Linked DNA regions of Homo sapiens. The protein of the gene in region 2 purifies or fractionates together with the protein of the main gene of each other region. This does not show direct contact. Each region holds a gene or a part of one and is shown on either strand. Other genes may lie near its edges.

Region 1 (3,500 bases), on a different chromosome or scaffold from region 2:
CAAAGTGCTGAGATTACAGGTGTGAGCCACTGCGCCCAGCAGACACATCTATTTTTAAATACCATGGATAAGTTTAATCCTCCTTTGATAGAAATAAAAGTAAAACAACACTAGTAAACTTTTAAAACAGGGTGTACCTTTTTCAGGAACAATATGATTCAAAGGGTGGACACACTAACTTCAATCTATGCTCATGTGCAAATTTGAGCAACTTTCCAAATGAGAAACAGATATAATACACAGCATTATTAAGTCAACAAACTTAATATGCTGACATGGAAACAGTCACTCGCACATGGCCCTACTGTATATTTATTAACTATATTTACTAACACTAAGTATAACTTCTACCGTTACCCCTGTTTTTCGTTATCCATTCCAAAATGCTTTTGTTGTTCTTTCTTCTCCTTTAATTTTTGCCAGTTCTACAACAATACTTCCAAAGATATAGAATAATGTACTTTAAGCCCCAAAAGAAAATTCTGGAGAAAAAAAAGGAATCTATTTTAGAGAATAAACTTTCTTTGGATAGACTTTGTCCAACCCAAGCACAACTCAATGTAAGCTTGAGATATATCTTTTAAACTTTTTATTATACGGACATAGAAAGACTATTCCAGCATCAGCCCCCTCCCCGCACTCCTCAGTCTGCTTCAATAATCAGTAACTCATCGCTAAGCTTGTTTTCTCAAGACGCCCATCCTCATCCCCAACCCCAGAGTATTTCAAAAGAAATCCAAGATCTCATATAATTTCACCTATACATATTAAAACAAGCATTTGAAAGTTTCAACAAAGCTAATTATTACAAGAGACTCTCCTGTCAAGCACATGTCCCTACTAAGAGTGCATATTCGTCTTACCTTTGCCTCATTAATGGAATATTAATGCAATTAGCAGCAGCTACGGCAGCAAAGGGAACAAAACGTCCTATCAGTGGTGAGACATGCTGCAGAGGAGAAAATTTCAAGAGCTTTATCTTATTTTTCCTGTACTAGTAAATGGAAATAACTTATTTCTTCTTGAAAACTCTGAAAAATGCAGAGTCCCATTTGCATAGAAACTCAGGCCAAGAATGCTTTCAAAACTTTTCCTAGCAGTATTTGTATATTTCCCACATGGGTGTGCTGGGACCATGCAAGCTTCTAAGGCCTTGTAGCTAAGTGTGGTTGCAGGAGTATGGGCTTTGGAGTGGGGAGAGAGAGAGAGAGAGAGAGATGCTCTTGCCTCTCTTCAGAGCTGTGGCCTGAGGCACACTGCCCTCTGCAATGCCTCTGGTGGGCTGTCAGGATGGGTGAACATTTAGCACTTCGTACACAGAGTCAGGCACAGACCACAGTCCTGGTAGGTGTTACTGGTGACAACTCTTCCCAAACTTATTGGAAGATATAACTAAAATATGCAGCTGAAGATAAGCACTATAACAAGAAAGCCATATGACTTGAACTAGTTTAAGAAATAATAGAGGGATTTAGAGCCAGGCAGGTGATAACAAATTAAACAGCTTTATTATGGAAATAAAAATCTGAGTACCTTGGTCAATGCATTGAGTCCTAGAGCTGTTGCTACGGCACCAGTTGTTGCAGAAACGTAAGCTGTTCCCAACTCACTGAAAAGAAAAAAGGATATCGTGTGGACGACGAGGGCATGTCAGGAAACTCTGGTGCAACATTATTTGAAGAAATAAAAGGGAAATATAAAAGAGCATGATTCAGAATGAAGAGTCTACAAAACAACATTCACTATCACTCCACAAGTAGGGGAATCTAGAGAAAAAGCAAGCAGATCCATAAACAATGGGATTCTTCACACGTATCTTGACTATAACTCCAAAAAAGTAGACATGTATTCTTTGAAGTGAGTTGGTTAAAATAAATAAATAAACATACAGACTTTGTATTCGTGAGAAGGAGGGGAGCTGTGTGTAGGAAGCTATGAATACAGGGGAATGCATATTGGGCTAAATGTTTGGGGCATATTTGCTTAAAAATATTTCTCAAAATATTAATATACACACTGAAAGCAAAAATGAAGTGCTGCCATTTAAAAAATGATATCTTAACTGTATAAAAATACTAAGTCTTATCATCCAAAAACTATAAAGCCCAAGCAATTCTCTCTTCTTTTAAAAGAAATTTTAATTGCAATAAACACCACTTGGCTGCAGATTTCAAGATCCTTTGTTCCATATAACAATAGTAGAAGAATATGTGTTGTCAAAAGCAATTTTAAGTGATAAAAAAGAGAAGCACTTTTCTTTCAAGTGTAATACAATTATGCTAACTAACGTTTTTGGTTAACTAATCTTGTGAGCCTATTTTTTTTTTAACAGGTGACAAAAAATTAAAACTCATTGCTTTCTTTTGGACTCCACAGATGAGCTATTTTAAAAACATATCAGATATAAAGTTCACACCGCCATGGTCTCCCCTTGATTTCTGCAGAGACCACACTTTGTCTCCTCTACTCTTAACGTTGGTGTCTGTCAACTCAGGCAGGGTAGATGGCGGAACAGCCTGTCACTTATCAGAGGCCAGGCCGGTGCTGCCTGCCATGTGTTCTACAGGGCCATGAGCTCCAGGGTGAGAAGGAGGTAACATCCTACCAGTACCTCCAAAGGCACGAGTAATGTCTGAGAAGGCAGGCTGGAAGAAGACTGTTTTCTTGATAGGGAGAGAGAAAATGAAACACTTTACTTTAAAAAAGAAAAAAGCTACAAAAAAGGATGCTACATAATATTCTGAACAATATAAAAATATGCACACATAGGCTTTTTTAAACAGGAGAGTATCACCACTTAATAAAATGAAGGTTGAAGAACTGCAGAGAGTGGTCAATTCTCGTAGCCTTACTTGACAGTGAGGGGTGCGTCTCCACTTCTGTTGGTGTAATTGACGACGGCATTGAAGGACTGGTTAATCCACTGCCAGAACAGCACAGCCGGCGTAGTCCTAAAACAGAGGCATCCGTCACATACCCACCATCACTGGGCCCAGCCGCGGCATGGAACAGAAAACGTGAACACCAGTAACCAGAGAGGAGACGTACTGGGGAAGGGAGAAAGCCATAAGGCCACACAGGCTTAGGATCTGTGTGCTGGGCAAGCTTTTATCCTCTGGGATCATCAGTTTCCTCATTCCGTAGATATAGATAACACCAAGCTCAGAGGGTTACTATGAGGATGAAGTAAGATAAAATTTGTAGAGAGCCTGGTACAGAATAGACATTCAATAAATGCCAGATCCCTTCTCTTGGGGAAAAAAGATACAATTTGTAGGCTAAGCGGTCCTGGGCCCTCCTAACAGCACTTGCAATGCTATATGTCTATGTCTACACATACACCTTTAATGTGCCTATATCTACACTTATACCTATACCTATATCTATATGAATGGAGTCAAAGGAGAATTTGCCTGCAGACTCTTTATTTTCCTTCTCCACTTCATTCTCTTTTGGGGCTAAGATTTAGAAAAAAAATTCAACCTCCTTTTGAACAACTA
Region 2 (3,734 bases):
ATATATATACGTGTATATACATATACGTATATATATACATACATATATATACGTATATATATATATATATATATAAGTTTAGCAAATTTATCACCTAAAAAAAAACATAGTCAGAGTTGGCATACAGGCCATAGTTTGTCAACTTCTGCTTTAGAGGGACATTAATCTTGCAAGACTGTGAGAGATTTCATTCTGCTTTCATCAGATTCTTGAAGAGGTCTATGACACCAAATTCTAAATTTGTGATTCCCAAAATAGCAATTTTCTCCATTAATGTACATGAGATGGTAGAGAACAACCAAACTCATATTCAGAGCCACAACATATAGTTGGACAGTACACCCTACCTGTTCTGTATGGTGATAAGTTATAGCCATGGCTAGGCTCACTAGGTAAGTGACTTGCTCTTTAAGTATGCTCAATGAAAATCTGTTTCTCATCAAAATGGCTAACTGCTCTAGGCAAATAATAATAATGATATATTTTAATATCCACTGATACCCCTTAGTATGTCCCTGGCATTACAGTTAGTGCTTTACATGCAATATCTCACTTAATCCTCACAACCATGTGAGAACTATTATTGTCCCCTTTTTGTTGAATGAGGAGACTGAGGCTTGAGGTGTTTGATAACTTGCCCCAGGTAACAGAACTAGTAAATGCTGGATCTGGGATTTCGATTCAAGTCTTATTCTATAACCTGTGCTCACAATCACTACTGTTTCTCATGGCCAAAAAAAAAAAAATGTTTTATTCTACATATGAAACGTGGAAATGGTGAATCCCAAGGTTATACTGTATAATAAACGCCAAATGATATATTGTTATGTACTGCGTGTTGGTGTCCCCCCAAAATTCACATGTTGAGACCCTATCTCCCCCATTGTGATGGTATTAGGAGATGGAGAGCTTTAGGAAGTGGTTAGAATTAGAGGAAGTGATGAGGGTACAGCCTTTGTGAATGGGATCAGTAGTGCCCTTATGAATCTTGAGAGAGCCTGCTTCCCTCTCTTCTCTGCCATGTGAGAATACAATGAGAAGTAGGCTGTCTACAAGCCAGAAGAGGGTCTTCACCAGAACCTGACCATGTTGGCACCCTGATCTCAGAATTTCAGTCTCTAGAACTGTGAGAAATAAATTTCTGTTGTTTATAAGCCACCCAGTCTATGGTATTTTTTACAGCAGCTCAAACTGACCAAGACATCTATGATAAGAATGAGTAAGTAGCACTGGCATCTCTTTCTCCCTCTGCATTGTCTCCATAGAATGCTTTTCATATACCACATCACCCAAGACAGGCAAATAAAGGGTTCCAGAATCTAGATGTGTGAGGAAAAGACATTAGCTTGGAAAGGTTTTGGTCCCACTGTTAAGCTGTAGTATGTTTCATCTTCATAAAGATACTCTGGAATTAAAAGGCATGTGGAAAAATGACCATACATTATATTCTTGTGAGAATATGGTCACTGGTAGATTATTCAGAGTCTAAAAACTGTATAGCTCCTCTTGATTAGAAAAGAGAGAGGACAGAGGAAAATAGTAAAACTCATATCATGTTTGTTATTCAATGACAGTTTTTATGAAGATTAAGTGAGAGGAGGAGGCTGAAATTAGAGACTAACTTCCAGTTTTAAATTAGATAATCTATAGACAATGGAAAGAACTTAGACTTTGATGTCAAGAAGATCTAGGCCATAAACAGAACTCTGCTACTCACAAGCTATATGATTTGGGGCAACTTATTTTAGCTCCCTGAGTCTCAGTCTCTTCATCATAAAATGGGAATAATTACCGATCCAGCAGAGGTTTTTGTTTTGCTTTGTGGGTAAGGGCTGAATAACATAATATACTTCTAGCTCTCTGCATCACAGTATGTGCTCGATAAAGGGTGCATATTATTATTATTCCCCAACCGCTGAATTAGCCACCTTCCTTTGCAATAAGACAACTTAGCGGGTTTTATAATTCACATTGTAATTATATAGATATCTATATAGGTATCTATATAGATAAACCTATGCAAATCAATATGAATACATTGTCAAAATGGTATTAAACACTTTGTCACCTTCTTTTTGATCACAGTAAAATCACAGCAGTATTTGTTTAGAAAGTATAATTGTCACTGCTTGGTCCCACAAAGTGTTTATTGCCAGTATGGAATACTAGCAATGTTATAAGTATTATAATGGATAATATTTCTAATATTTGATGCTGAAAGTTCTTTTGGTGCCTAAACTTAGTAAAACTAAACTTAATAAAAATAAAAGTCTTAAGATTGACAGGGAGACTGATAGGTAAATAGCACAAAAAATGGAAGCTGACATTTCTTTATGTAGGTGTGACTCATCCCTTTAAAATTACAGAATCTAGAAAGGCCCATTTTCCCCCACCTAATAGCTCAAATTTATAAAGTTATATTAAATGCTTCACCTAATCAACCTGTCAGTGTTACTCTATATACTCACATTAAAAGATCTATATTATGAACTATGTGATAATTTAAAGCAATTGCAGATACTTAAGTACCTCATAACCTAAAAAGAAACAGAAACCACAGATATGAGAAAGACAAAATATTTATGGGGAGAACACATCTTAAGTTCAAACCACTAATGATAATGCTATCAAATTATTTAAGAAAAGAATGAAAACAAAATTGACTTATACCCAACAAACCTGAAGTGGATTCTGATTTGGTCTTTGCTTCAGAGCTGAGTTCTGTTGGCAAGGGCACTGAGTGTTTCAAGACGTGAGTTGTTTTTGCAGGTACTTCTATTTCGGAAGAGGATCCTAGCTGTTTACCAAACAGATTTTTCCTTCATAAGTAAATCATTTTACTATTTCCTTCATCTACTTTCTCATTTTATCCTCGACCTCTGTCCAGTACCCTCATTACAAGCCAACACCCACCCAAACAAAACTCAATGTTGACCGTCTTGCTCCATGTAAACTCTACCTTAGTTTTTTCTTTAGGTTTAGGGAGTGACTCTTCTTTGCTGCTTTTTGTCCACAATGATTTAACTGCTCCAAAAATTTGCTGGCTTGTAGCATATACCTTTTTTGCTGTTACCTAATTAAAACAAAAAGTAAGTCAAATAACATATTTTTAAAAGTTAAAATTAAAAATGTATTTTAGATTTGTCAGGTATTTTATATGAACACTCAAGTCAGAATCAATAAAGATATAAATCTCTAAATCATATAACACAAAGCACCATTTCTAAAATCTTATATGAAAAATTTTTTGTGTCATGCAAAGGTTATAAGAAATGTATAATCTGCATTCACATTGTAACATAAATTTAAAACTATGTCTATTTTTTTAATTTTTTTCAGCTTTAGTGAGATTAGATTGACATATATAAAATTGTATCTATTTAAGGTATATAACACGGTGATTTGATATAAGTGAAAACTGTGTCTATTAACAGGAGTTTGGGGAATATAGTTTGAGATAATAAACTGCTGACTGAGAAAATGAGATTTTTAACATGCTACAAAGTTAATGCTTTTGCTTAAAATTTGATGGTGCTTTCTCCATTCATAAAGAAATAAAAGGCATCAACTAATTCCTCCAAAGAATAATATTCTTTTTTGGTAGAAAGGTAAAATAAACAATGACTGATAAATATACTCAAGCAGAGGCCAGGATGCTGGCTGAATTCCTAAAGTTACCGTTATTTTCATTCATCTCTATTTCTCTTTGAAAATCTACTTCTGATTTCTTCTTT
Region 3 (3,734 bases), on a different chromosome or scaffold from region 2:
TTAATTAAAGATGGAGTCTTGCTACGTTATGCCAACCCAGGCTGGTCTCAAACTCCTGGACTTAAGTTATCCTCCTGCCTTAGCCTCCTAAGGTGCTGGAATTACAGGTGTGAGCCACCCCCCAATCCTTATGTCTTTTTTTAAAGTAAGCAAAACTTCAAACTTATCAAAATCCAAGAAATAACAATATATATTAACTAAATACCTACTTATGACAGGCAATTTATATACATTCTCAGCACCTAGCAACGCACATACCACACAGGTCATCCTGGCCTACAGTAAGTGCTTAAGCCATTATTACCTGTTACCTACATTCTAACATTAAAGAAACTGATGGCCAGGTGCAGTGGCTCATGCCTGTAATCCCAGCACTTTGGGAGGCCGAGGCGGATGGATCACGACGTCAGGAGTTTGAGACCAGTCTGGCCAACATAGTGAAACCCTATCTCTACTAAAAAAAAAAAAAAAAAAAAAAAAAAAAAAATTAGCCGGGTGTACTGGTGTGTGCCTGTAATCCCAGCTACTTGGGAGGCTGAGGCAGGAGAATTGCATGAACCTAGGAGGTGGAGGTTGCAGTGAGCTGAGATTGCGCCATTGCACTCCAGCCAGGGTGACAGTGTGAGACTCCATCTCAAAAAAAAAAAAAGAAATTGAGAAACAGAAAGGTTAAATTACTAGCGTTGAAGCATAGAACTTCCAGAAGAGTAAAATGGGATTTGAATACTGGACTCCAGCTGCAAAGCCCTACATAGTGGCCTCCCTCTATCCCATTGTTAACTAAGAAGTACTGGTGCCTCCATTCTGCAGGTAAGTAGAGGCTGAGGTTAAATGACTCGTTGAAGGTCACACAAGAGGCAGGCAGCATGGGCTGAAATTCTTGCTTCTCAGCCTCTTGGCTTACAGAACACCCTATGGAATGCAGACATCTGAATAAGTTGTTTTTGGACAACCGAGGCTTAATTCTATGTGCCTGAGGCACACATTTAACTGGAGTCATTATAAATATCAAACTTTAACATAATGTAGTAGATGGAAAATGAAGGAACTGACCTTTTCAGAGCCATCTTTATTTTTTATTAAGACAAAATTAACTGCCCATCATGAAGTTTGATAAGAAAGCAATAAATGTGTAAACACACACCACCTCACTGCTTTAGGTATTTGAGTCGCTCAAATTGGCACAGTTGAGCCTTTTACATGTCAATTTCTGCAGATGGCTGAGTCAGTGGTCCTGATTGGAGGGTCTGCTGTCTCCTTCTTTGTGGGTGACTTTGACCCTAGGACAATCTTGCCAGTGACCAGGGGACCTTCCTCTACTCTTCTAGCCCTTCCTTTCCATCTGCAGCTCAAACTCAACTGTTGGGCCTCACTCTGTGGCTGTAACCTGCAGCTAAGGAAACCCCAACAACACACAATTGTGAAAATAATGATCTACCCTGTACCAGAGAAGGAATGAAAATGCAGGGACTTGGGGTAAACTTTTTACTGGTAGGTGATACTTTTGTACTTCTAGTTTCATGGCTGTTCTGGAAGGATGAAGATCTCAGAACACTGACCTCCATATATGGACTGCAAGAAAAAAACTATTTATTAACAACTTCATTTTTTACTTAACTGTGTTTTTCCAAAAGTGTTTAAAAGTTGAAAAGGAGGATGGCTCCTTAAGGTTAAAACAATTGGGACCAGAGGTCTTCAAACAGGTTACAAACACTGCAAAAATGAAATTCTTTCAAAGACAATGATAAAGTTAGAACTGTAGCCATTTGTCTTGGGAATAAATTAGGTTTGAAATGTGTCAATTAAATTTCCTAATTAATGGATCAGGTAAATTTAACTCTGATTTATAGTTAAGGAATCCTTTCTCCAAATAAATTTTGGAAAATCATCCTGGAAATCTCAGAGGAGTGAGATTTTAGGAACCAGATGATGCATCTAACACTAAACCAGAAAACCTGTCTGGCTTTGGTGTGCCCAGTGAGTGATAAAGTACTCCCTCCTCTCAGTGTGAGGCAGGCACGACAGATGATGGCCCTGCTCTGTAAACAGGAAATCTAGAAGGAGAATCATTAAAGATCATGTGTCTTGTCATAGGAGAACGGGGGGTCCTTTCCAGCTGCCTGCTTCACTCTCTCCAACGGCGGCAACAATGGGGTCTCCAACCTTTTAGCACCACGGACTGGTTTCATGGAAGATAATTTTTCCACAGACTAGTGGGAGTGGAATGAAACTGTTCCACCTGGGATCATCAGGCATTAGTCAAATTCTCATAAAGAGGACCTAACCTAGATCCCTTGCATGTGCAGTTCCCAATAGGGTTCATGCTCCTATGAGAAGCTAATGCCACCACCAATCTGACAGGCAGAGCTCAGGCGGTGATGCTTGCTTGCCCGATGCTAACCGCTTGCTTGCCCGACGCTAACCGCTTGCTTGCCCACCACTCACCTCCTGCTGTGCGGCCCAATTCCTAACAAGCCACAGACCAGTACTGGTCCATGGCCAGGGGGTTGAGGACCCCTGCTCTAGAATACAAATTTAAGGGGATATTTTAAAGTTTAAATCCTGGAGAGGGAGATTCTTCAGCTGATTGTTGACATTTCTATATTAATCCAATTATATACCTCTATTATGCTTATAATTTTTTTTTTTTTGAGACAGAGTCTTGCTCTGTCACCCAGGCTGGAGTGCAGTGGCGCAATCTCGGCTCACTGCAAGCTCCGCCTCCTGGGTTCACACCATTCTCCTGCCTCAGCCTCCTACAGGCGCCCGCCACCACGCCCGGCTAATTTTTTGTATTTTTAGTACAGACGGGGTTTCACCGTGTTAGTCAGGATGGTCTCCATCTCCTGACCTCGTGATCCGCCCGTCTTGGCCTCCCAAAGTGCTGGGATTACAGGCTTGAGCCACGCGCCCAGCCTATGCTTATAATTTTAAAGTAGGATTCCCTGGTTTTGTCTAGAATTGTTTCCATTTGAGATTTCTAAAGAAAACTCTCTGAACTCTACTGAACATTGAGAGTTTTGAGGACACTCTTTTGAAGGTACTTTGAAGTATCAGTGGGAACAGGGCCTTGCCTCTCACAGCTATACTTAAATGGCAACTACTCTAGAACTGACAGCAAACACACAAACAGGTATTAAGATATTCTTCCAACCACACATTAAGATTTAAGATTACTCTGACTTTTTTCCAACTAAATCACGTTATTTCAACTTCACGTTTGATTTCACACAAAAAATTCCAGCAAATATCAAGTTCAGACATCACCTTCAGAGCTTCTAATGGAATCCCGGGATGGAAAACCAGCACACCACACCTGAGTATGACATTTAACACCGAGTTTGCTGACGAAGACAACAGAAAGTGACTTCTGCAAGGGAGCATGTTTCATATGGATTTAACCTATAGCCATATAGCCATAAATATGGAAAGTGCCTTCACTCATTGGGAGAAGTAAAAAAAAAAAAAAAATTTAAGAAATATTTTTTGGCTGGGTGCAGTGGCTCATGCCTGTAATCCCAGCACTTTGGGAGGCTGAGATGGGTGGACTGCTTGAGCTCAGGAGTTTGAGACCAGCCTGGGCAACACAGTGAGACCCTGTCTCTACAAAAACTACAAAAATCAGCCAGCTGTGGTGGTGTGTGCCTGTAATACCAGCTACTCTGGTGGCTGAGGTGGGAGGATCACCTGAGCCGGGGAAGGTCGAGGCTGCTATGAGCCACGACTGCACCACT

What was found.
Region 1: the proteins of APOOL (region 2) and SFXN1 purify together in Homo sapiens (affinity purification with mass spectrometry, with the first as the bait; one large-scale study listed by BioGRID). This does not show direct contact.
Region 3: the proteins of APOOL (region 2) and DNAJC11 purify together in Homo sapiens (affinity purification with mass spectrometry; one large-scale study listed by BioGRID and IntAct). This does not show direct contact.

The regions. Positions count from the first base shown.
Region 1 is NC_000005.10:175,509,560-175,513,059, reverse strand, and holds part of SFXN1 (sideroflexin-1), read right to left. Parts: intron 2,952-3,500; coding exon 2,853-2,951; intron 1,610-2,852; coding exon 1,534-1,609; intron 950-1,533; coding exon 864-949; intron 1-863. UniProt on the Homo sapiens protein: Amino acid transporter importing serine, an essential substrate of the mitochondrial branch of the one-carbon pathway, into mitochondria.
Region 2 is NC_000023.11:85,073,337-85,077,070, reverse strand, and holds part of APOOL (MICOS complex subunit MIC27 precursor), read right to left. Parts: intron 3,074-3,734; coding exon 2,960-3,073; intron 2,798-2,959; coding exon 2,680-2,797; coding exon of another isoform or gene 2,671-2,679; intron 1-2,670. UniProt on the Homo sapiens protein: Component of the MICOS complex, a large protein complex of the mitochondrial inner membrane that plays crucial roles in the maintenance of crista junctions, inner membrane architecture, and formation of contact sites to the outer membrane.
Region 3 is NC_000001.11:6,695,172-6,698,905, forward strand, and holds part of DNAJC11 (dnaJ homolog subfamily C member 11), read right to left. Parts: intron 1-3,734.